Linked DNA regions of Homo sapiens: regions 2 and 3 are each linked to region 1. Evidence: fine-mapped expression QTL. A gene starts in region 1. Each other region holds a variant in brackets. All regions are shown on one strand. Distances are from middle to middle.

Region 1 (8,180 bases):
ATTAAGGCACACAAACTTTTAAGTCTTTTAGCAGCAGATTTCAGAAACTTTAAAGTTGTATAGGGAGGGGACAGAAAATGGGTTGCTAAATGGTGCTTCAGGTTGAAATATGGAAGAAAAATACTTTCCTTATACAGTGTAAATGCTAAATCATACTCTTTTAATATACCAAGGGAGCAGGCTCCAGAACTTTTTGTTGTTTTCTCCCTATTTATCTGTTAAAGGCTGATCTTTGTGAGAGAAAAACACAAGTTAGCTCAAAACTGGTAAGTACACATGTGGTTGCCTTTGAGAAATGCAAATCAAACAACCTCTTGGACAAGATTCCCGCCCGCCTTGCCACCTTTTCAAGATGTAAGTTGTTTAACAAGGCATCTTTATTTGGCTTCAGAATCTTACTCAAGTTCTGAGCTGTGGTAAACTCTGATGACATTGGATTATCCTTTACTGATAAGATACATTTGATAACTTTTTTGATCTTTAGAAAGCAAACAGCAGAATGCCAAGATTTATGAATAATATATAATCTCAATCATGCAAAGAAATCTGCATCTATACATGAATATGCATTAATGGTAATAAAGAATTTAAATGTTAACAGCAGCTAATTATAGAATTACAAGTAATTTTTATTTTCTTCCTTATACTTCTCTGTTTGCCAAATTCTTTTTAAAAAACAGAAATTTCAAGCTCATTCTTGTTGGAGAAAAGAAAAGGAGAGAATTACCTATATAAGCAGATAAAAAGTTATTTGAAAAATATCAAGCTACCCCTGCAGCAGTAGACATCATCCATTATAAATTCAGCTATGAAACAAGAAACTTAAGATGTGAAAGACCAGAAAGATTTTAGATTTTGAGTAGGAAGATTTTGAGGAAGACAAGGAACACTGTAGGTCCTTATTATTTTCTTAATCAGATGATGTCCAGAAGTTATTTGTGTGTTTTTGTTTTTGTTTTGTTTTGTTTTTTGTTTTTGGAGATGGAGTCTTGTTCTGTCACCCAGGCTGGAGTACAGTGGCATGGTCTCGACTCACTGTAACCTCTGCCTCTCAGGTTCAAGTGATTCTCGCGCCTCAGCCTCCCTAGCAGCTGAGACCGCAGGTGCGTACCACCATGTCCAGCTAGTTTTTTTTTTTTTTTTTGGGACGGAGTCTCGCTCTATCGCCCAGGCTGGAGTGCAGTGGCGCAATCTTGGCTCACTGCAACCTCCGCCTCCCGGGTTCACGCCATTCTCCTGCCTCAGCCTCCCGAGTAGCTGGGACTATAGGCGCCCGCCACCAAGCCCAGCTAATTTTTTTGTATTTTTAGTAGAGATGGGGTTTCACCGTGTTAGCCAGGATGGTCTTGATCTCCTGACCTCGTGATCCGCCTGCCTCGGCCTCCCAAAGTGCTGGGATTACAGGCGTGAGCCACCGTGCCCAGCCAGTTTTTGTATTTTTAGTAAAGATGGGGTTTCACCATGTTGGCCAGGCTGGTCTCAAAGTCCTGATCTCAAGTGAGCCACCCGCCTGGGCCTCCCAAAGTACTGGGATTACAGGCATGAGCCACCGTGCCTGGCCTATCCAGGAGTTATTTGTGTCTGACTCTCTTAATTCACAGAACAAAGTTTTGTTTTGTTTTGTTTGTTGTTGTTGTTGTTGTTTTGGTTTGGTTTGGTTTGGTTTGGATTGGGTTTTTTGTTTTCTTTTTTGAGATGGAGTTTCACTCTTGTTGCCCAGGCTGGAGTGCAATGGTGTGATATCGGCTCACTGCAACCTCTGCCTCTGGGTTCAAGCGATTCTCCTGCCACAGCCTCCCGAGTAGCTGGGATTAAGGCATGCGCCACCACACCCAGATAATTTTTTATTTTTAATAGAGACGGGGTTTCTCCATGTTGGTCAGGCTGGTCTCGAACTCCTGATCTCAGGTGACCTGCCCACCTGGCCTCTCAAAGTGCTGGGATTACAGGTGTAAGCCACCACACCTGGCACAAAACAAAGTATTTACAGGTAACCAGGTGTATAGAAAGAGTGGTGCCACGAGCCAGGTCACAGATACTTCTAAATGTGTTGCTCAGTCTCTGAGAAGCCAGGTCCATGGCTTTGAACCTTGCAGATGGGAAAATGTGGACTAAAATAGAAAGCATGTGTTCTTCCTCACCCTGATTATCTAGTCCTGCAGGCTTGTTGGGAGCAGTAGAAAGGACATAAGACTCAGCCACAGGCCCGAGTTCCAACTGTAGCTCTGACATAACCAGCTGTGTGACACTGGGCAATTCACGTAACTTCTGTGGGCATCTCCACCCTTGTTTGCAGATGAGATCTGCCCCCAGCTCTAAGATGTTTTCCCTGGCTGGATAAAATGTCGTGCCTGGATAACGTCCAAGATTGGAGACCACCCCGCTTTAATGTCTAACTGGGCCACTCCTTCCCTGGAATAGCCACTTAATGTCCTCAAACATACCGGAGTTTCCCCATCCCTTGGTTTCAGGTATCCTCCCTCAGGAAGATGTTGCAAGGACTGACTAATGCACATTAGTGTCCCAATAACGATGCCTGCTGCAGGTGCTGGGACTTCCAAGTCTAACCTAGGCTGGCAGTACGACCCCACTGTGATCTTAAAGCCACCTTTCTGTCCCGTCTCTGGGGCTTCCCATCCCACCCTATGTGATTACAGCTTAAGTCTCAGATGATGTCAAATCCTTCTGCCAAAGACCCTGATGCATTCACAAGAATGGGTTGATAGATAAGGCTAGTTTACACAGGAGGGGGAGTCCACGTTTAAGGAAGCAAGAACACCGTCTCCAATGCCCCCTCGAAGGACACTCTTGAGATCTTCATCTTTCCCAGAAACCACTGAAAACATCGCCCACATGGAAGGATGCTTTAAAGCCTTCTCCTTCGGTCCAGAGAAAATGAATTCTCCGAGTTTTCCTTTGGTTTTGTCTTGTTTTTAACCTTCACACGTTAATTTCCAGGGTTTCCCCCTCCTGGTTCCAGACAGCACCGATCATGAACTCATCTCTGATCGTCGTACGGTGAGTTGTAACCGCCCCCCCACCCCCCATCCACAGGGCAATTCGGAAGGTGGAGAGGGTGAGGTGGGAGTTTCCTGGGCAACCGGGCGCACACCCGCGCCCACACGGACAGGAAAAGCTTCGCTGTCTACGCAGGTGCGTCCCGAGCACCTGCGCACCTGTTGCGCGGCTCCCCACAGGTGGGCCCTGTCTCTTGCACTGGCCTGGAGACACCTGGGAGTAGGTGATTCCCCTGAGATCCGCGCATGTCTCTGTGAGGCGAGAGTGGGTGGGCAAGCGGGGCTGCGGCGGCCGCAGCGGGAGGGCGGGGTGGTCCCGAGCTCAGAGCCTTTTCCCGACTCCCACCCGGCTCAGCCGTCCACGCGTCCCGGACGCGGCAGCGCAGTCGTGCGGCAGGAGACCCCGTGGGACGCGCCGCAGAAGCCCCCAGGGCCCCGGCCCTCGCGCGTAGGGGACTGGAGACCCTGCGCGTCTCCTCCGCGCCTTCCTGCCCGGCGCCTGCACCTGCTCCCCGGCTCTCGGGCCCCTGGCTGGAGCGAGGCGGGAGGCGGACGGCCCGTATGCAAATATCCTGCGGGGCCGGGGCCGCCTCCAGAGCCCGGGATAAAAGGCGGGGCGGGGCGCGGGGCAGCGAAGCCGCTGCCTCCCGGGAGCCGGCAGAGCGCTCCGGCCCCGCACCCGCCGCCCGTCGCCCGCAGCCCCCTACCGCGCGGCCCGCGCCCCGCCGGCTCCCGGTAAGGACGCACCGCGGAGCGGGGACCCGAGGCAGGGGCGGGGTGGGGACACAGGCACGGGGTCCGGCTGCGCACCAGCCTGCGCTTTCCCATTGGAAACGTGGGCAGCGTGCACCTCCGCGCGCTTCCCCGCGGCCGGGCTGGTAGCATCTCCGCAGGTGCTGCGGCGGGCCAGTTCGTCCCCAGGCCATGGGCAGTCAAGGCGGAAAGGAGCTGCGTTGGGTCTGCGCGGGGTTAGGAGAGAACAAAATGCCCTCGGATTGGAGCGGGACCGGGAGTCCGAAAGGAAGAGGTTCCACCAGGGGTCTCTGGCTCCTCAGAGCTTATCCTGCTTTCCCCCAGCCGTCCGGAGACGCCGCGGGGAGGCAAGCGGAAAGGGGGAACCTGGCCGAGGGGGAAAGGTGCGGGTGTGGACACCTGTGAAGGAGCAGCACGAATCGAATCGGCCGTAGAGGCTGCAGACGCGGCCGCGAAACCACCGGCCACGCCGGGCAAGGGACCCAGCACTGCTGAGCGGGCACCTCGCCTAGTGGAAAAAAGACTTTAGTAGTTCCCCTCACCCCCTACTACTTTTTTTTTTCTTATTTAAAAAAATCCTCTGAAGTCTATTTTTAAAGCTAATACCAATCACAAGGTTGGCCAGTTTGACCTGCGGTTTGACCTGGTAGCCTGTTGTGAAAATCCCTTCCTCATCCCACGCCTTCCTCCACCCCATCCTGCATCCCAGAAGATGCAGTGTGGAAGGAAGACAAATATTCCCCCAGAAGGTGTCCGCCTCCAGCTTACTGTCCTCCCGTTTTATGATGCCTGATAGGGGTTGTTCACTGAGGTGGAGAGAAAGAAAGGAACCTCTCCCTCCTCCTCTGCTCCTGAAAACCAGCCAGAACCACTGCAGGGACCAAGGAGCTTTGGAGTTTCGGGAACACCTGAGGGCTGCCCAGGTGGAGATAAGAGCTTTGCTTTTGCAAATGGATGTCCTTGGAGCTCATCCTAGAAAGGATGAATTGGAGGGTAGGGAGTGGTGAGGCGGGGATATCTGACACATCTCTCCTTCTGTTTCTGTTTGTGTATGTTTGTCCTGGTTCTGGGCAGTCACTGGGTAAGAGAAGACTGGAAGCATGTCGGAGTTTTGGTTAATTTCTGCCCCTGGCGATAAGGAAAATTTGCAAGCTCTGGAGAGGATGAATACTGTAACCTCCAAGTCCAACCTGTCTTATAATACCAAATTCGCTATTCCTGACTTCAAGGTAAAATTCTTGGGGAGGAGTGAAAAAGGGATGGATTGGTCAGGGGGAGACAGGAGAGGGAGACAGGTTGCTACCTCAGGAAGCCAAGGAGAAAGTATCAAGGCAAAGCAGGGGCTCTGAGGACAAGCTGAGGTTTGAGGATGGACGGGGAGGTGATGGGCTAGGTGGGATATCATGCCATAGTCCCAAATAAATTGTGATACCTATGTAGATGCAGCCACAGGAAGGAATGAACAGGGGGACAAGGTTGTGGGTAGCAGTGTCTAATGCTTCAAAAAGTGGGAAGCACGTTAAATGCACACTCAGGTTCTCTTGGGTGTTCCTCTGGCTCCTCCTGGTTTGTCTGCAACATCTCAGAAGACCCACCATATAGTTTAGATGTGCAGGCTTGGGGGGCTTCAGCCTTGATTGTACTCTTGACCTGGGGGCAGGGGAGGAAATCTAGGATCCCTTTGGTCCTGAGGGAGGGGAAGGGAGGGAATTTGGTGACAGAAGAGAGTTTGGGTCATGCCCAGGCATCTAAGGGTTCTTGGAGTGGAGGGCAAAGTTCAAACGAAACCAACATTAAGGAAGAATGAGGCCAGGCGCGGTGGCTCACGCCTGTAATCCCAGCACTTTGGGAGGCCGAGGTGGGTGGATCATGAGGTCAGGAGATCGAGACCATCCTGGCTAACACGGTGAAACCCCGTCTCTACTAAAAAATACAAAAAAATAGCCAGGCATGGTGGCGAGCGCCTGTAGTCCTAGCTACTCGGGAGGCTGAGGCAGGAGAATGGTGTGAATCCGGGAGGTGGAGCTTGCAGTGAGCCGAGATTGCGCCACTGCACTCCAGCCTGGGTGAACGGCGAGACTCTGTCTCAAAAAAAAAAAAAAAAAAAGAATGAGACATGTGCAATTTTTTTCCCCCCGAGTAGCTGGGATTACAGGCGTGTGCCACCATGCCCGGCTAATTTTTGTATTATTAGTAGAGATGGGGTTTCACCATGTTGGGCAGGCTGGTCTCAAACTCCTGCCCTCAGGTGATCCACCTGCCTCGGCCTCCCAAAGTGCTGGGATTACAGGAGTGAGCCACCACGCCTGGCCACACAATTATTTTACTTCAAAAAGAGTGGACTTACCGTGGTGCTTTCTGAGGCTGTAGGTTTCCACGGGGAAGACACTACAGCTTTCTCCCAGACCACATGGCACAGGTGCTGGTGAGATGGCACTGACTGCCCAGCATCTGCTCTTGTAGAAAACTGCCATATACTCCCTTTTCAAACCTCACTTTGCCCCTCCGCCCAAACAGCTGCCCCATCAGCTACCAGGGTTGTAATGCTACCCCATTTGCTAACGTTTGTTGAGCAAAGAGCTGACGGCTAGATACTTGAAATGCATCACCGGGAAGCTGACTCTGGGGACAGGCTGGGAGAGGCTAAGTGTTGTCAGGCTGGTAAGTGGCAGCAGTGGGTTCTGAAACCACATCTTGCTGCCTTTTTAAGCCTGCCTCTGCTTGTCCAGCAATGGACACTGTACGGGTGAGTAAATTCTGCATCCACTCATTGATACTGTGTGTGAGGCACTGTGCTGGACTCTGGAAGGTAAAAAGATAAAAAAAGAAGACACAGCCCCTGCAGAAGTTGCTTAAAATTAAGTTACTTGAGAAGAAGCGACTTGTCTTGGTAGAGATATTCAGGCTTCATCATTTCCTAATTACTTTTTTTTTTTTTTTTTGGTTGGAGCCTCGCTCTGTCACCCAGGCTGGAATGCCGTGGTGCAATCTAGGCTCACTGCAACCTCCGCCTCCTGGGTTCAAGTGATTCTCCTGCCTCAGCCTCCCCAGTAGCTGGGATTACAGGCACATGCCACCATGCCTGGCTAGTTTTTGTATTTTTAGTAGAGACGGGGTGTCACCAGGTTGACCAGTTTGGTCTCAAACCTTCGGCCTCCCAAAGTGTTGAGATTACAGGTGTGAGCCACTGTGCCCAGCCTCCTAATTATTTTTCTTAATTTTTTTTTTCTTGAAATTCTGCCAAATCTCAGAACCTAATTACTTTTTAACATCTAGTTGGTGGTACCACATGATAGCAACCCTTTTCTTTCTGATTCTGTGAAAAGACCTTTAAATACAATTTTGGACATTGTAGTAATTTCTACACTAAGAAATAGATCATGGCCAGGCACGGTGGCTCACTCCCGTAATCCCAGCCCTTTGGGAGGTCGAAGTGGGAAGATCACTTGAGGTCAGGAGTTTGAGACCAGCATGGACAACATGACCAAACCCCATCTCTACTAAAAATATAAAAAAATAAGCCAGGCGTGGGGCACATGCCTGTAATACCAGCTATTTGGGAGGCTGAGGCAGAAGAATCACTTGAACCTGGGAGGTGGAGGTTGCAGTGAGCCGAGATCTCAAAAAATAAAAAACAACAACAACAAAAAAAACAGATCATAAGTTCTCTGAAAAGAAAAGGACCTAGGTGAATGATGAAGTGGGAGGAAAGGAAAAGCTGCCTCCTTCCCCAGCAAGAATTTTTTTTTTTTTTTTTTTTTTTGAGATGCAGTCTCGCTCTGCTGACCAGGCTGGAGTGCAGTGGTGCGATCTTGGCTCACTGCAACCTCCACCTCCGAGGTTCAAATGATTTTCCTGCCTCAGACTCCCAAGTAGCTTGGATTACGGGCACATGCCACCATGCCCGGCTAATTTTTGTATTTTTAGTAGAGACAGGGTTTTGCCATATTGGCCAGGCTGGTCTCAAACTCCTGAACTCAGGTGATCTGCCCACCTTGGCCTCAAGATCATGGTTAATAACAGCAAAGAACAGAGAAAAAGACGGTGGGGCCGGGTGCAGTGGCTTGAGCCTGTAATTCCAGCACTTTGGGAGGCCAAGGCAGGCAGATCACCTGAAGTCGGGAGTTCGAGACCAGCCTGACCAACATGGAGAAACCCTGTCTCTACTAAAAATAAAAAATTAGCCGTGCATGATGGTGCATACCTGTAATCCCAGCTACCTAGGAAGGCTGAGGCAGGAGAATCACTTGAATCCAGGAGGCGGAGGTTGAGGTGAGCCGAGATCGTGCCATTTCACTCCAGCCTGGGCAACAAGAGCGAAACTCCATCTCAAAAACAACAACAAAAAACACAACTGATGGGACTGTCTTGGAGCAGAAAAGCTTTTAGGAATGAGAACTTCTTTAACTT
Region 2 (8,180 bases), 100 kb after region 1:
AGCGGAAGTTTAATAGATGAAAGAGAGAGAATAGCTCTCTGTTATAGAAGGGGGTCCCGGAAAAATGGGTTGTTGATCTGTGGTTAAATGTGGGGTGTTTTATAGATGAGTCGCTGGGGAGGTGGTGTCTGATCTACAGAGGGCATGAAAAATTGATTAGGACCAGGTGTGTCATTTGTATAAGGTGTACATTTCTGGCAACCCCCACCCCAGTATTTTATTACAGGTGTGTTTTCAGTCTAAATTGTCATGTTGCCCATTTCTTTTTTACTGTACACGTGTTAACAAAGAAGGGGAAGATGGAGCTTCCATGGTGGACATGTCCAGCCCCCAGGTAGCCTCGTTTCTATAGATGTCATCGTTGGCATTCCCCTGTGTAAGTTTCTAGTTTTTCTAGTTGTCTTTGTTTATCTGTGTCTGTAGTTTGATTTTTCAGGCTATTCTTCGTTAGGAAAAAAATAATTTCTTGAGCTGTTTTTTGTTAGAAGGGAAGTTCTGTCGAGGACTCTTTTGTCCTCACTATCTGTCTAAATAATTTCTTTCTACCTCCTGTATCAGCGGCACCAGCTGGGGTGGCCCGAAGCCAGGGAGCTGGGCCAGTTCACTCACATGGCTGGAAGTCGGAGCTGATGTTGGCTGGGACCTCAACTGGGGCCAGTGGTCGGCACACCCACACAAGCTTCTCCCGGAGGTCTCTTCTCATGGATGCTGGGGGTATCTTCTCTCCTCTGGAAGCTGTGCTCTGAGAGTGAGCGTCCTAAGAGTCAGGAAGAGGAAGCTGCCACTTCAGGACCTGGGTTTGGAAACTGACCCTGGTTAAGCAGGTCGTTGGGCCCAGGACGAAGGGGAGGGGGGTGGATTCTACCTCCCAGTGAGGAGATGGCCACAGAATTTTCAGGTCGTGTTTTAAAACAGCCTTCGGAGATTTGGAATGCCCTCTTCTCACTTTTCTGTTGTTGAAATATTGCCCATCCTTTATGGCCCAGCTGAAATCCACCTCCTTCCTTCCCCCTCTCTTACCTCTCAGTTGAAATTAATCATGGCCTCATCAGCTCTTCCAAAGCTCACCCTCGTCTGTTGCTTCCAGTCTCTACCGTTGCACAGTAAGCCAGTGGAGGGCAAGATTCGGTTAATCAATTTTACCTGTGTGTAGGGAGTAACAGCGTGCCCCGACATAGGCAACAGGTACCCAGCATTTGAGTGTTAAAAAATGAATAATTGCTGTGAAGCCAAGGGGTAGAGGCAGGAGAAAGAGGGGTCAGAGGAGAGCAGTCCCCGATTTACCCAGGAGGCCTCTGGCTGTGTGGTTGGGTGTTGCCTTCTATTCAGCGGTATCTGAATTGATGCTGAGCAAACATCTAGAAAGAGGAAGCATTGTTGGAGAATTCGACAATTCAGCACTTCTCCTTCTATAGGGTTGTAAGTGTTTCTGTGAATTTAAAGATTCTATCCAAGGGCAATAATAAATGATTTTTTTTTTTGAGACAGGGTCTCATTCTGTCACCCAGACTGGAGTGCAGTGACGCAGTTATGGCTTGCTGCAGCCTTGACCCCCTAGGCTCAAGTGATCCCCCTGCCTCAGGCTCCCAAGTAATTGTGACCACAGGCACATGCTGCTATGCCCGGCTAATGTTTTATTTTTTGTAGAGACAGGACCTCACTATGTTACCCAGGCTGGTCTTGAACTCCTGGGCTCAAGTGATCCTCCCGCCTCAGCCTCTCAAAGTTTTGGGATTACAGGCTTGAGCCACCACACCCAGCCTTATATAAACGATTTTTAAAATTAAAAAAAAAATTTTTTTGAGACAGAGTCTGTTGCCCAGGCTGGAGTGCAGTGGTATGATCACGGCTTACTACAGCCTCAACCTCCTGGGCTCAAGTGATCCTCACACCTCAGCCTCCCGAGTAGCTGGGACTGCAAGCATGCACCACCATGCCTGGCTAATTTTTGTATTTTTGTAGAGATGGGGTTTCACCATGTTGTCCAGGCTTGTCTTGAACTCTTGGGCTCAAGTGATCAGCCTACCTCGGCCTGCTAGAGTGTTGAGATTACAGGCATGAGCTACTGCACCCAGCCATAAATGATTTTTATTTATTTATTTATTTATTTTGTTTTTTTGAGACAGAGTCTCGCTGTGTTGCCCAGGCTGGAGTGCAGTGGCGCGATCTAGGCTCACTGCAAGCTCCGCCTCCCGGGTTCATGCCATTCTCCTTCCTCAGCCTCCCGAGTAGCTGAGACTACAGGCGCCCGCCACGATGCCTGGCTAATTTTTTGTATTTTTAGTAGAGATGGAGTTTCACCCTGTTAGCCAGGATGGTCTCGATCTCCTGACCTCGTGATCCACCCGCCTCAGCCTCCCAAAGTGCTAGGATTACAGGCGTGAGCCACCGTGCCTGGCCTCATAAATGATTTTTAATGTAGCACTGCAAACAGGGATAAGTGGGCTCGTGCTCCTTAGTGGGACTCATTGATAAGGAGGCACTTAGTAGAGTGATAATATCTTCACCCTCTATACCATCTAATAAGTCAAACAGGTAGCTTGGGATCGGTGCAGTAGCATTTGGGTATATGTTCTGGCCTGGCTTTACTAAACAATTTGCAAGGCAAAGCTAAAACCAAAACATATGGTGGCCACTCCAAAAGTGAGGTCTGAGCCTTTGTTATGGCTGTTGCCTCTCTAGCAAGTCTGAGGAGACAAGCTGTGAGCGCAGCTTCCTGCGGACAAGACAAGGCCTCCCCTTTGTGAACCTCCCATGATGCCTGGTCTCCAGCTGCATCTTTGATATTGGCCATGGACAGTTTTTCTGTGCTGTATCCCCATGGCTTATCTGGGGCCAATCTTAGAGTACCCCAGTGTCTTCGGGGTGGTTTGTATAAATCCACTCAGGGACTAGATAGTGGTGGATCATTTGCTATGACTCCTTTCTCCAGAAGTAGAGGTGGCCTGGACAAATCACCTTGCTCATTTTTTCTTGTGTTTCAGAGGTTAGAGCTCAGATGCTAAAGAATCCAAGGGACAAATCCCAAGGGTGCAGTCTCATTGTCAGCAGCCAAGCTTTCCTGCCACAGAATGAAGCTCTCTCTTCTCCATCCACACTGGCATTTGCCACTTGGGATATAGCAGCTGCTTCTCAATTCTTTGTCAGGCCTCTAGCCTCTCACTGCTGCTAATTCATGGACTCCCAGGAGGTTACTTCTAAAACTTCTTCCAATCCTTGTTATGGCTCATATGAACTTCTGAATAAAGTGGGAGAGGGTTAAGAAGAAGGAAATAAATCTCTATTCAGTGCCTAGGTGCTCAGCGAACACTTTGTCATCTGTATCAATGACACCACCAATCCAATTGCTCAAGCCCCAAATCTCATTGGGTTCTCTTTCCATCACCAGCTCCCAACATTCTTTGGCAATTTCTGATAATTCGAGCACCAAAACATATTCAAAATCTGCTGACATTTTTCCCACTTTCTCACAATTGCCACCACCTTGGTTCCAAATGGCTATGTGGACTTTTGCAGTAGCCCCTTAGAGTCAACAATGTTAGTGCTGTACTGTAGTGGATGTTGTGGTGTGTAGCCCAGACCCACTTCAGGAGGGGACACTCACACCTCCAGTCATAGGGAGTGTTGACTGCTGTTGCTTCATGGCTCTGTCCTTCCATTGGCTAAAAAGAGCTGCTGTGCCCAAGGTTATACTCCCTC[C/T]CTGGGGGCAGCTTACATTCCATGACTGATAGATTTGGGGATACAAAGGACTGCCCTCCTTTTCTCAATTCGGGACAACCCTGAAGGCCCTTCCCAGCTTTAAGCTTCCCATGGGGGTCCACTGAGGCCCTTGTAAGCACCCACATCATGATTCAGCTTTATGATTTAGCTTCTCTTACCCAACCTTATTTTTGCCACCTCCTTGTTGGTGTCATTGCCAAGAGCACACTCCAGTAAACCTCCTGTAGGCAGATAGCCATCTCAGAGTCAAAAATGTTGGTTCCATACTGTAGTGGATGCTGTGGTATGTAGCCCAGACTCTGCTTCAGGAGGAGACACTCACACCTCCAGTCATGGGGAGTGTTGACTGCTGTTGCTTCATGGCTGTGTCCTTCCATTGGCTAAAAAGAGCTGCTGTGCCCAAGGTTATGCCCCATCCCTGGGGGCAGCTTACATTCCGTGATTACATGTCTGTGGCCGATGACACCTGTCGAGTGTTCTGCTGCCCCTCCCCATTGTGTAGCAACCCTGGGTGGATTCTAGCAGCGTTGTCCAGCTGGCAGAACTCTATCCCCCTTGCCACAGTTATTGGCTCAGGAAGGGGTTTGTCACCACAATAGCCACTAAGCCAAGTGGCCAGTGGCATTCACATGGCCACAGTGATTGTTCCAGGGTGAGCATGTGACATAAACCAATCAGAGTGAAGCTCTGGACTTTGGTCAATGGCTAGAAGAGTGGCATTTGCTTGGGCAGAAGCATGGATCCCTGTTGTCCCTGGAAACTACCCCACAAGATGAGGAAAACCCACGTGGGGATGAAGCTGAAGCGGGGCAGAGCTGAAACAGTCACGGAGAAATGGAGACAATACCTGATCAGTGTCTGAAGACTGTCCTTCAGCTGAACATTCCAGTTATTGAAATATGAAATCATCTTTATTGTTTAAGCAAGTTTGATTTGGGTTTCTAATTGGTCTTTCTATTTTCACTCTTGGTATCTGTGATGGTTAATATAGAGTGTCAACTTGATTGGATTGGAGGATGCAAAGTATTGATCCTGGGTGTGTCTGTGAGGGTGTTGCCAAAGGAGATTAACATTTGAGTCAGTGGGTTGGGAAAGGCAGACCCACCCTTAATCTGGGTGGGCACCAGCTAATCAGCTGCCAATACAGCTAGAATATGAAGCAGGTGGAAAAAAACGTGAAAAGGCCAGGCTGGCCTAGCCTCCTAGCCTACATCTTTCTCCCATGCTGGATGCTTCCTGCCCTCAAACATCAGACTCCAAGTTCTTCAGTTTTGGGACTTGGACTGGCTCTCCTTACTCCTCAGCCTGCAGATGGCCTATTTTTGGACCTTGCGATCATGTGAGTTAATATTTTAAAAACTCCTCTCTCTCTCTGTCTCTCTCTGTCTCTCTCTCTGTCTCTCTCTCTGTCTCTCTCTCTCTCTGTATATATATATCCTATTAGTTCTGTCCCTCTAGAGAATCCTGACTAATACGGTATCTTAAAATTCTTTTTCCACAAAGCAGACTCTTATGGATTCTTGAAAAAGTTTAAATTAGTTCACACTCCTCTCCCCTACTTAAAACTTTCCAATGGACAACAGAAGAGAAATAGACAATTTGGAATTCATCAAATTAAAACCTTTTGTGCTTCAAAGGGCACCATCAAGGAAGTGACAACACACAGTGTGGGATAAAATATTTGCAATGATATGTCTGGTAATGAACTAGTATCTAGAATGTATAAGGAATGATTACAACTCAATAATAAGAAGACAAAAGAACCAATTTAAAAATGCCCAAAGGATCTGAGTAGACATTTCTCCAAGGAAGACATAGAAACGGCCAATAAAGCACATGAAAAGATGCTCAGCGTCATTAGTTACCAGAGAAATGTCCATCAAAACCACAATGAGAAATAACTTCATACCCACTGGCTTGGCTAGAATCAAAGTCAGAGAATAACAAGTGTTGGTGAAGAGGTGGAGAAATTGGAACCCTCCAACACCGGCTTTTGGGAATGTAAAATGGTGCAACCACTTTAGAGAACAGTCCAACAGCTCCTCAAATAATTCAACAGTTACCATGTGATCCAGAAATTCCACTCCTAGGCATCTACCCAAGAAAATGAAACACATGTCCACACAAAACACATACAGGTATGTTTTAGCAACATTATTCATCATAATCAAAAGGCTGAAATAACTCAAATGTTCATCACCTGACGAATGGATGAACGAAAAGTGCCATGCTATACAACGGAAATATTATTCAGCTATTAAAAGGAAGGAAGCGCAGTGGCATGCCACGATATGGATTGACCTTGATGACATTATGCTAAGTGGAAGAAGCCAGACTCAAAATAACCACATGATTACTTTCATATTCAAGTTCGGAACTAGGAAGTCTATAGAGACAGAAAGTAGGTTTGTGGCTGTCTAGGGCTGGGAGTTGGGAGAGGACAGTTGCACATATCTATGAATTTACTAAAAACCATTGAATAATGGATTTTTTTTTTTATGGAGTCTCGCTCTTGTTGCCTAGGCTGGAGTGCAATGGCGCAGTCTTGGCTCACTGCAACTTCTGCCTCCTGGATTCAAGCCATTCTCCTGCCTCAGCCTCCCGAGTAGCTGGAATTACAGGCGCCTGCCACCACACCCGGCTAATTTTTGTATTTTTAGTAGAGAGGAGGTTTTGCCATGTTGGCCAGGCTGGTCTCAAACCCCTGACCTCAGGTGATCTGCTTGCCTCAGCCTCCCAAAGTGCTGGGATTACAGGCGTGAGCCGCTGTGCCAGGTCGAATTATACGCTTTAATTGGGTGAATCATATGGTGTGTGGATTATATCTCAATAAAACTGTTAAACAGACAGAACCTTTCCCAGTGGCTTCTTATAAGACATAGAAGAAAAATCTGCCCTCCTGAGCAGACCTTTAAGAGCCTGCCTCTGACGTCACCTCAAACCCCTCCCTCTTTCCCTCTGTTCATGGCAGTATTCTTTCATTTCCTCAGACACAACAGGCTGGTTCCTGCCTTCGGGCCTTGGCACGACCTGCTGCCTCCATCACTGCAGTCTCAGCTTATGTACCACCTCTTCAGGCTCTTCTCACACCAGGTGATCTGAAGTGACAGTGCCCCCGGGTGAGCAGTTCATCAAACTTGGTGTTTAGTTTCTCCTCAGAACTGATCAGAATTCATATGTGTCTGATTGATTGATTGATTGAGATGAAGTCTTGGTCTACTGCCCAGGCTGGAGTGCAATGGCACAGTCTCGGCTCACTGCAACCTCCGCCTCCCGGGTTTAAGCAATTTCCTGCCTCAACCTCCTGAGTAGCTGGGACTACAGTTATGCACCACCACACCTGGCTAATTTTTGTATTTTCAGTAGAGACGGGGTTTCACTATGTTGGCCAGGCTGGTCTCAAACTTCTGACCTCAGATGATCCGCCCTCCTCAGCCTCCCAAAGTGCTGGGATTACAGGTGTGAGCCACCGCACCCAGCCTTATTTACATATTTATTTGTTTATCATCTGTCTTCACTAGGATGAAGCCTCCATGAGGGAACAGAGGAGAACCTTCCTATGTGCTGGCAACATCTGTCTACAACAGTGTCTGCCACATACTAATAAAGTTTAGTGATTGAAAATTTAATGAAAGTGTAGGTTTTCAGAAGAAATATAAGGGCTGGATGTGGTGGCTCACACTTGTAATTCCAGCACTTTGGGAGGCTGAGGTGAGCAGATCACTTGAGGCCAGGAGTTCAAGACCAGCCTGGCCAACATGGTGAAACCTCGTCTCTACTAAAAATACAAAAATTAGTGGGATATGGAGGCACACACCTGTAATCCCAGCTACTCAGGTGGCTGAGGCAGGAGAATTACTTGAATCTGGGAGGCACAGGTTGCAGTGAGCCGAGATCACGCCACTGCACTCCAGCCTGGGTGACAGAGTACGACTCTGTCTCAAAAAAAAAAAAATTTTTTTTTTCTTGCAATTCTTTAGAACTAGAGTAAAAAAAAAGTTTGTGAAAGTTTAATCTTTTTATTTTTATTTTTTTAATGCAATGTAATAAAATTAATAGACTTCATTTAGTCTATTAGAGCAGTTTTAGGTTTACAGCAAAGTTGAGGGGGACAGTGAATTCCCCATAAAACCCCTCCCCCTGCCACACACACAGCCTTCCCCACTATCAACATCCCACACCGCAGCAGCCCGCATGTTTGTTACAATGAACCTACATTGACACCTCATTATCCCCCAGAGCCCACAGTTTACATTAGGGTTCACACTTGGTGTTGTGCATTCTATGGGTCTGGACAGATGGAGATGACACACATCTACTCTTATAGTATCAGACACAGTAGTTTCACTGTCCTAAAAATCCTCTGTGCTCCAACTATTCATTCCAACCTACCCCCAATTTGCTTTATCTGTATATCAATTTTTCAATTAAAATGTATCAGAAATTCAATGGGCAGGAAG
Region 3 (8,180 bases), 64 kb after region 1:
AAAAACTCAGCGAAAATAGTAACAATCTTGATAAACCAGATTTTTGCCTCTCCTTTAGTGGAGAAAAACGGCCGAGCTGGGTTTTAGACAAACGCCTTGGAGTCCGAATGTTCAGTCCAACTACCTGCATTCAACTTGAGCATGCACCGTGGAATGGCCATTCATGGCCAGAGGGATGACCTCTTTTGCTCTATAGTTGAAAACTAGCTATCAGAAGGGGGTTAGCAAATTCTAGAGCTTTTTCTATCCAGAGATCACCGCTGACCCTAGGCATTTTGCTCGAGTTTGACTTTATGAAGCTGTGTTGGTTGAAGCTTTTCACCCTCGGAATGTACTGTTTCTGGTCAGGTTCCTTCTATCCGTGTTTGCATTTGGAGCAGTGAACTGACACATTTTGTCTATCTGAAAAGGTATGGACTACCAGTGAACTTCCAGGCAGTGCTCCTGCAGCCGCATAAGAAGTCATCCACCAAGCGTTTAAGAGAGGTTCTAAACTCTGTCTTCCGACATCTGGATGAAGTAGCCGCTACAAGTATACTGGATGTAGGTATCCAGAAACAGCAGTATTTCTACAGTAAGCTCAGCATCTTACTTTCAAAAAACTGGTATCTGCCTGTAATCCCAACACTTTGGGAGGTAGGTGGATCACTTGAGGTCAAGGGTTTGAGACCAGCCTAGCCAACATGGTAAGACCCTGTCTCTACTAAAAAAAAAATTGGGCTGGGCATAGTGGCTCACGCCTGTAATCCCAGCACTTCAGGAGGCCAAGGCGGGTGGATCACGAAGTCAAGAGATGGAGACCAACCTGGCCAACATGGTGAAACCCTGTCTCTACTAAAAATACAAAAATTAGCTGGGTATGGTGGTGTGTGCCTGTAGTCTCAGCTACTTGGGAGGTTGAGGCAGGAGAATCGCTTGAACCTGGGAGGCGGAGGTTGCAGTGAGCTGAGATCACGCCACTACACTCCAGCCTGGCGACAGAACAAGACTCTGTCTCAAAAAAAAAAAAAAAAAAAAAAAAAAAAAAAAAATTTGCCAGGAGTGGTGGTGCATGCCTGTAATCCCAGCTACTTGGGAGTCTGAGGCAGGCAGTGAGCTGAGTCCAGCCTGGGTGACAGAAACTGTCTCAAAAACAAAACAAAGCAAAACTATCTGTCAGCCTGTTATGAAAATCTACATGTCATACACATTAAAGCACAGCAAGGAGAGGGTTGGAGGGGTGGACCACAGCTACGCAGAGCAGAACGTACGCTCAGTGCCTGGCGAGCTTCCTCAAAACTAAAAGGATAAGACAGGAAACTAGTTTATGCACTTAGAGCATTACCATGTCTTCTTTTGTAGGCATCTGTGGAGATCCCGGGACTGCAACTCAATAACCAAGACTATTTTCCTTATGTCTACTTCCATATTGACCTTAGTCTTCTTGACTAGAAAGGCCAGCTGGCACCTCTGTCTCATGTTCGTGCAGATTATTACAGACACCTCTTTCCTTTAGCCAGAGAATGGTTCAAATGTCTTACAGAACTAAGATCTTTTTCAGAGAAATTGCTCACAAAAGTTAGTGACAGTTGTATTTATTTTTTTAAGTTACAATAAAATGCTCTCAAGTCCTTTGAATGTTCCAACAAATTCAAAACTTCATTTTCTGAATGTTTTACATAAATGCGAACTACCTGTTCGCATTGGTAACCTGCTGCTGTATTTCATGTCTTAACGGCTATTTTGAGGTTCATTAACAACATAGAAAGCCTTGAACTGTATAACCAGCTAGATTCCTTAATAATTAGTCACTAGAGACAGCCCAAAGACAAATATTGGGCAGGAAATCAGTTCTCACTGAGCCCGGTTTCCATGTAAAATCTCTGTTGTGGTGGGCATAGGTGGCACCATCTAAAGAAAAGAGGTCTTGTTTTTTGTTTAAAAAAGTTTGTGGGGAGGAAAGACATCTGTGTATCACTTCAAAATATTGATTTACTGCTAAACATCACTCTGAATTTATGATGTGGATACTAACTTCATACATTTATCGGCATTGTCCAAAATATTTTATTCTTTAATGGAAAAAGCCATTAATATTCAAATGAAGGGATCACATTAAAAAAAACCCATACATAAGAAACAGCCTCCAAGAACATTCAAGCAGCAGTCAGAGAGAAAAATGTTTCGACAGCCAAGTTTTCTTCAAAATATTATGTGACAGAATACGACTCAATTCACCGGCTACAACAATTCATAGAATTTTTCAATGTTTTCTTGAGATGCAAAAGTTCACTGTTGCAGTGTTTTCAAATGACCAATCAAGTACTACTTCTTGGTTAAAAGGCCACTGGTAGAGTCATCTGAGTGTAGAGAATGTCCCTTCACTGCTGGAAAAATCCACTGGCTCCCAAGAAAAGAAAATGGTCTGAAGCCTCTGTTGTGGCTCTCACAACTCATCTTTCCCTAAGTCATCAAGCTCCACATCACTGAGGTCAATGTCATCCTCCACGGGAAGCTGGGAGACGACAGAAAGCCACTGTTAGATCTGCAGAAGGGGACACCCTGGAAGGTCAACATCTCATTTTATGGAAGAGCGACTCTCTGGAGCTACTCCTGCTACAATCCAGGTTCTCCTCAGTCTGACTCCTACCCTGACCTTCGTACCTATGATTATACGGATGGAAAAGCTCAGAACTCAGGTGAAACATTTCAACATCACATCACTCACCATTTTAACACTGGAAGCCACTTGAACGTGTCCTTTTGAGGAGGGTGGGACACAACAGTACAGAAATAAGTGCTAATTTCAAAGCTATCATTTTCTATTTTTCTAAGATAAAGTAAATGAATTCCAGGTTAAATGTTCACTTTAAGGTAATAATCAGGAAAGCAACCTTACTACTGAAATGTATCTTGGCTGTCAAGAGTATCAAATGCCATGCAGCACTTAAACTTGTGATAAGGAAGATGAAGGGTCTTCAGAGAAGAACCTCTTAAAAGGCCCACGGGTGCACCAGGGCTGAGGTCTGATGGGAAGGACTTGACTCCAGGTGCAGAGATGCACAGGCTCAAGAGAGTAAACCAGGACTGCTGCCCGCACAGCTTCCCTCCCGGGCACTCACCTCGCCATCCCTGCCGTCCCAAGGCTCTCTCTCAACGATGGTAGGGAAAGCCCCGCCTCCTACAGGTGCCGTGGAGCCACGCCCAAAAGAGAGCTCCCTTAGGGAAAAATGACCAAAACACACACACACATTTACAATGGACTGCTGGTGCAGAAGAATAAACAACTTTAAAAATAACAGTCTGCCTACTTTGTTTATGCAGAGGCATTTCTTCTCTCTTGCTGCACTACATTCCTCAGAAACACCTTGAGGACATTATCTTTTTAATCACGGACAACATTACAACCAGATTCAACATTCCCAACTAAGCCCCCTGCATCAGATAAAGTCAGTTGCTATCAGTAAGCTTTTAAAAATAGCAGAGCATTTGCTGAAATACAAATTAAATACATAAATAATTATCAAAGTTGATCTAGAACATGGGCTGCCTGCGAGCTTTCTAAGACTGCTGTGAACCTGTACAGAGGGAGCATATCAGAAGTGAGGCGACTGGTTCCAGTGCGCTGGCAGAGAGCGGGGTGCGTATGTGCATAAACATCAGTACTTGAAACATACCAGACCTGGTGTAATCTGGCTGTTGGGAAACCAGAGCCAGAAATACTGTGGGCACAAATATTTAGAGTTCACCAAACAACTCATAGAATAATAGAGCTAGACTAACAATCTATGGCACCAATGGGCTAGAATAAGCAAACCTATTATTAGAAAAAAAAATTACAGGAGATATATTCACATTCTGACTTCATGATTTAATAAATACTACTCTATGACAATCACAAACTTAAGCAGTCCACAAACTTCTTTTTCTTTGAGACCAAGTCACACTCTTTTGCCCAGGCTGGAGTGCAGTGGTGTGATCTCAGCTCACTGCAACGTCCACCTCCTGGGTGTGCCTCAGCCTCCCTAGTAGCTAGGACTGCAGGCCTACAACACCACACCTGGCCTATTTTTTGTATTTTTAGTAGACATAAGGTCTCACCGTGGTGGCCAGCCTGGTCTCGAACTCCTGGCCTCAAGTGATCCGCCTGCCTCAGACTCCCAAAGTGTTGGAATTACAGGCGTGAGCCACCGCACCCAGCCCCACAAACTTAATGAAAACACCCCCTTGGCCAGGCGTGGTGGCTCACACCTGTAATCCCAGCATTTTGGGAGGCTGAGGTGGGTGGATCACTTGAGGTCAGGGGTTTGAGACCCGCCTGGCCAACCTGGTGAAAACCCATCTCTACTAAAAATACAAAAATTAGCTGGGCGTGGTGGCAGGCGCCTGTAATCCCAGCTACTCAGGAGGCTGAGGCAGGAGAATCACTTGAACCCGGGAGGTGGAGGTTGCAGTGAGCCGAGATCGTGCCAGCCCGGACGACACAGCAAGACTCTGTCTCGGGGGTGGGGGG[G/GA]AAAGAAAACACCCATTAACCATATTAACCAACTACAATGAGAGAGAGCTGGGAGGGAAGGAGCCACAGTCTGCCCCCCGCCGGCAGAGGCTGAAGCAGCTGATCTCACAGGGCTTCCTCCATGCCTCCCACTTCACTACTCAAGGCAGAGCTGTGACTGAGGCACCTGACTTTGGAGCCCCTACTCTCCACACAGCACACACACACGTCTCCACACAGCACACAAACTTCTGTGTCAAGTAGGAAGACTGGCAGCAAGAGCACTGCAGGCTTTCATGTACTGTTCTTCCTATTCATTATTCAACACAAGCCTCTCAACTACCTTTTGTGTGCTGAACATCTCTTATACAGCAGCTAAGAAATGAACGCGGAAGAAAGCAAGAATGGGAAATAAAACCTCTTTAGGTCAATGCCCTGTATTGCCTAAAAGATGATTAGGTGAGCTGAATAGCAGAGCAGAGTAGACAGCTCTGTATATTGGTTTTAGAACCTATCATGTTGTTTGCACATTGTTGGAGTAACTTAAGTACGCCCATTTTCAAATAAATAACTACATTCCAAAGCCAAGTGCCCAGAAATGGAAACCACATTTCCCCAAGGTCAAGATTACAATGCATATGAGGGTGAGGATGGACAGACAGGGCTGCCTCTAGCCCATATGAGACCTTTATGAGAATGAGAAAGAGCCCAGGGCCAGATGCACAGAATGGCACACAGGGCGGCCCGAGGGTAGCAATGCTTTCTCCTCATCCCGCAAGCAGAGTATTCCATGGAAAAAAGAACGAACAGGGAGACAATTTAAAAACTCTAATGTATAAACATTCAATTCTCTGGAATTAGTTTGCATTTTAAATTCCATTTATTACCTGGCTTATATATACCTAGTTCCAAATATAAACCTACAACAGAACCAAACAAACAGACAAAACAACAAACAACCTAAGAAAACAAATTACCTGAGAAACTCGTTGATGCCTTGCTCACTGAAGGAGCCTTTTAGCAGAGCAAATTTCATCTTGCGTGCATTGATGGCGGCCATGGCGGGGTACCCAAACCCTCCAATCCCCAACGCGGTCTCAAGTTCAGACTGGGCTCCAGCTTCTGTCCACAGCCACCTAGAAAACCAGACTGGTTTTTAGGGCAAATATGTCTTTTAAATTGCTTACGATCTAACTAGAAGATCTTAGAGAACAAAAGATCACGCTTCAGATATTTCGTAGAATGACAAATAAAAACAAAAGATGAGTTTCTATATGGATTTTCCCTTTTTACCTGAAATCCCACCAATATCATTTGGGTTATTAAGCATGTTCTCGCGTTCTGTAGGCATCTAATAAACATTTGCTGGACTAATGGAGGAGGAGCAAGGTCATCGAGAGAGGGACAACAGGGGGCGCTAGGTACCTGGGGAAAGCAATGGATACTGAGGACAAGAAGCAAAAAGATAAATAGGAAGGAGGCTGGGCACGGTGGCTCACGCCTGTGATCCCAGCACTTTGGGAGGCCAAGATAGGTGGATCACCTGAGGTCAGGAGTTCGAGACCAGCCTGACCAATATGGTGCAAACCCCATCTCTACTAAAATCACAAAAATTAGCCGGGCATGGTGGCGTGCGCCTGTAGTCCCAGCTACGCAGGAGGCTAAGGCAGGAGGATCTTTTGAACCCGGGAGGCGGAGGTTGCAGTAAGCCGAGATTGTGCCACTGCACTCCACCCTGGGCAAGAGAGTGAGACTCTGTCTCAAAAAAAAAAAAAAAGGATAAAATAGGAAAGAGATACACTGTTTTGAAAATGTGCCTAGATCCAGTCCTTAACTCAGAAGAGGAGAAGGAAACAATTCTATTTCCCCTTTCTCACCCAGCCTTCAAGTTCACAGTAGAATTCAGGTGCACTACTCCTTATGTGTCTGCCTGCTAACCTGGCACTCCAATCACCATGTAAAACATGATTCCTATGAGAAAAATGCATGCTGTGCTGACAGCCCTTCATTCCTTCTTTTCCTCCCATGATAAAGTTTTCACATCCTGAATAAAAACATATAGCAGAGCAGGCCGGGTGCGGTGGCTTACACCTGTAATCCCAGGACTTTGGGAGGTGGAGGCAGGTGGATCACTTGAGGTCAGGAGTTTTGAGACCAGCCTAGACAACATGGTGAAACCCTGACCCTACTAAAAATACAAAAATTAGCTGGGTGTGGTGGCGGGCGCCTATAATCCCAGCTACTTGGGAGGCTGAGGCAGGAGGGAAAAAAAAAAAAAACATATAGCAGAGCAAACATAGAACACAGCTTACAAAAACACGGGGGAACCACTCTCAAGAAAGCCTATAATCAGCTGTTCAGATGACACTCAGACAGTAAGCTCAGTAACTTACCCCCACATTTTCTTTTTGTATTTGTCTGCCAACTTCAGAAGAACTTCCAGATAAGAATTTCTGCCTGCAGCTCCTGATTTAAATAGACAAAGTTTTTTAAAGGTAAAGATAAAGGAGTCCATAAAATTAATCCATTTAGAAAGTATTCTCAGAGCATCTAGCATAGAACAGCTAAGGGAAATCATTTCCGTCTGTCTTACCAGTATCAAGGATATGGGGCAGCACAGCCACAACACAGAGCTGGTGCTCCTCACACGTCCTCTTGGCAATGTCCTCGTTGATAATCTGTGGGACCCAAAAGACAAGGGACAATCAGGAGGCTGCATGATACAACACCTAAAGGTAAGCTGGCAAACAAGACCTTCGCACCGTCACTTTCATTGAAAACATTTCTCCCACGACTACTTCCTCGTATGGAAACACCTGGAGGCATGTTCTCTAAGAGGAGATTTTTCTGCTACTGATTCTTAAGCCTGTGGAAGCTGTGGTGGTGGAGGTGGGGTGATTAGCACACATACAAACATCTCTGAAATCGCAATGCCTGGACACAGCCTGGCTCTGCCACTTACTTGTTTAAATAGATTATACTTACATGTATTATATGTCTTATATGTTTATACACACTTGAGGCTCTGTGCCTCAATTTCCCCATATATAAAATGGAGATTAAAAACAGTATCTACCTCTCAGTGTTCATGTGAGAATTAAATGAAAACAAAACAAAACAAAACAAAACTATACAAAGACACCAGAACGGTGCCTGTTACATGATTAGTACTTGATAAATGTTCTATTACTTTGAGAATGATAAGCAAGAGTGATTGAATACACTCTATCTTTAAGAAGCTCGTATTTCTGTTCAGTGTAATTATTCTAATGCTAAAAGTTATGAAAAGCAATTTATCAGACTTTTTTTCCATTTCAAAGTATAGAAACCACTTTAAAGAGAGTATCTTTAAGGGCATAAAATGAACAGTGTGTCACACTGCTTTAACATTCCTCACCATCAGCTAAAAAAGCTTTCTGGACTACAAGCAGTTGAAGTGGTTTACCTCAAGCAGCTCAGGAGGTGGGGCGTTATCAGAAAACAAATCAAGGGCCCGGGACACGATGTCGGATCTTGTCCGCCCACCGTCATAATCCACAGGAGACTCGCCTTTCTGAAATATCTTGATTGTAGGAAATCCTCTAATCTATTAAAAAAAGGTCAGAGGATAAAATCCAATTAACACTTAATGCAAAATAACACAATCTTTACAGTTTCTAAAACCACCTTATAGGTAATTTTTTTTTTTTTTTTTTGAAGCAGTCTCACT

Evidence for each region. PIP is the estimated chance that this variant, and not a neighbour inherited with it, causes the effect. A credible set is the group of variants that fine-mapping cannot tell apart.
Region 2: its variant is the best candidate, but not a certain one, in a credible set for the expression of ATP6V1C2 in lung (TOPMed, PIP 0.59).
Region 3: its variant is the best candidate, but not a certain one, in a credible set for the expression of ATP6V1C2 in visceral fat (GTEx, PIP 0.79).

Annotation. Positions count from the first base shown.
Region 1 is chr2:10,717,980-10,726,159 of GRCh38, forward strand. It overlaps ATP6V1C2 (ATPase H+ transporting V1 subunit C2), which reads left to right and starts at 3,651. Exons shown (of 14, transcript NM_001039362.2): 1 at 3,651-3,752; 2 at 4,845-4,999. The coding sequence starts at 4,871.
Region 2 is chr2:10,820,162-10,828,341 of GRCh38, forward strand. It overlaps a transcript of PDIA6 not described here. Among named protein-coding and RNA genes, the nearest start is that of PDIA6, 11 kb to the left of the region's middle. RefSeq lists an enhancer at 1-751. The variant C/T (reference allele first, on the strand shown) is at 3,700.
Region 3 is chr2:10,781,833-10,790,012 of GRCh38, forward strand. It overlaps ATP6V1C2 (ATPase H+ transporting V1 subunit C2), which reads left to right. Exons shown (of 14, transcript NM_001039362.2): 13 at 411-543; 14 at 1,342-3,278. The coding sequence ends at 1,431. PDIA6 (protein disulfide isomerase family A member 6) reads right to left here. Exons shown (of 13, transcript NM_005742.4): 8 at 7,917-8,057; 9 at 7,065-7,149; 10 at 6,865-6,937; 11 at 5,449-5,607; 12 at 3,102-3,198; 13 at 1,559-2,494. The coding sequence ends at 2,426. Among named protein-coding and RNA genes, the nearest start is that of PDIA6, 27 kb to the right of the region's middle. The variant G/GA (reference allele first, on the strand shown) is at 4,493.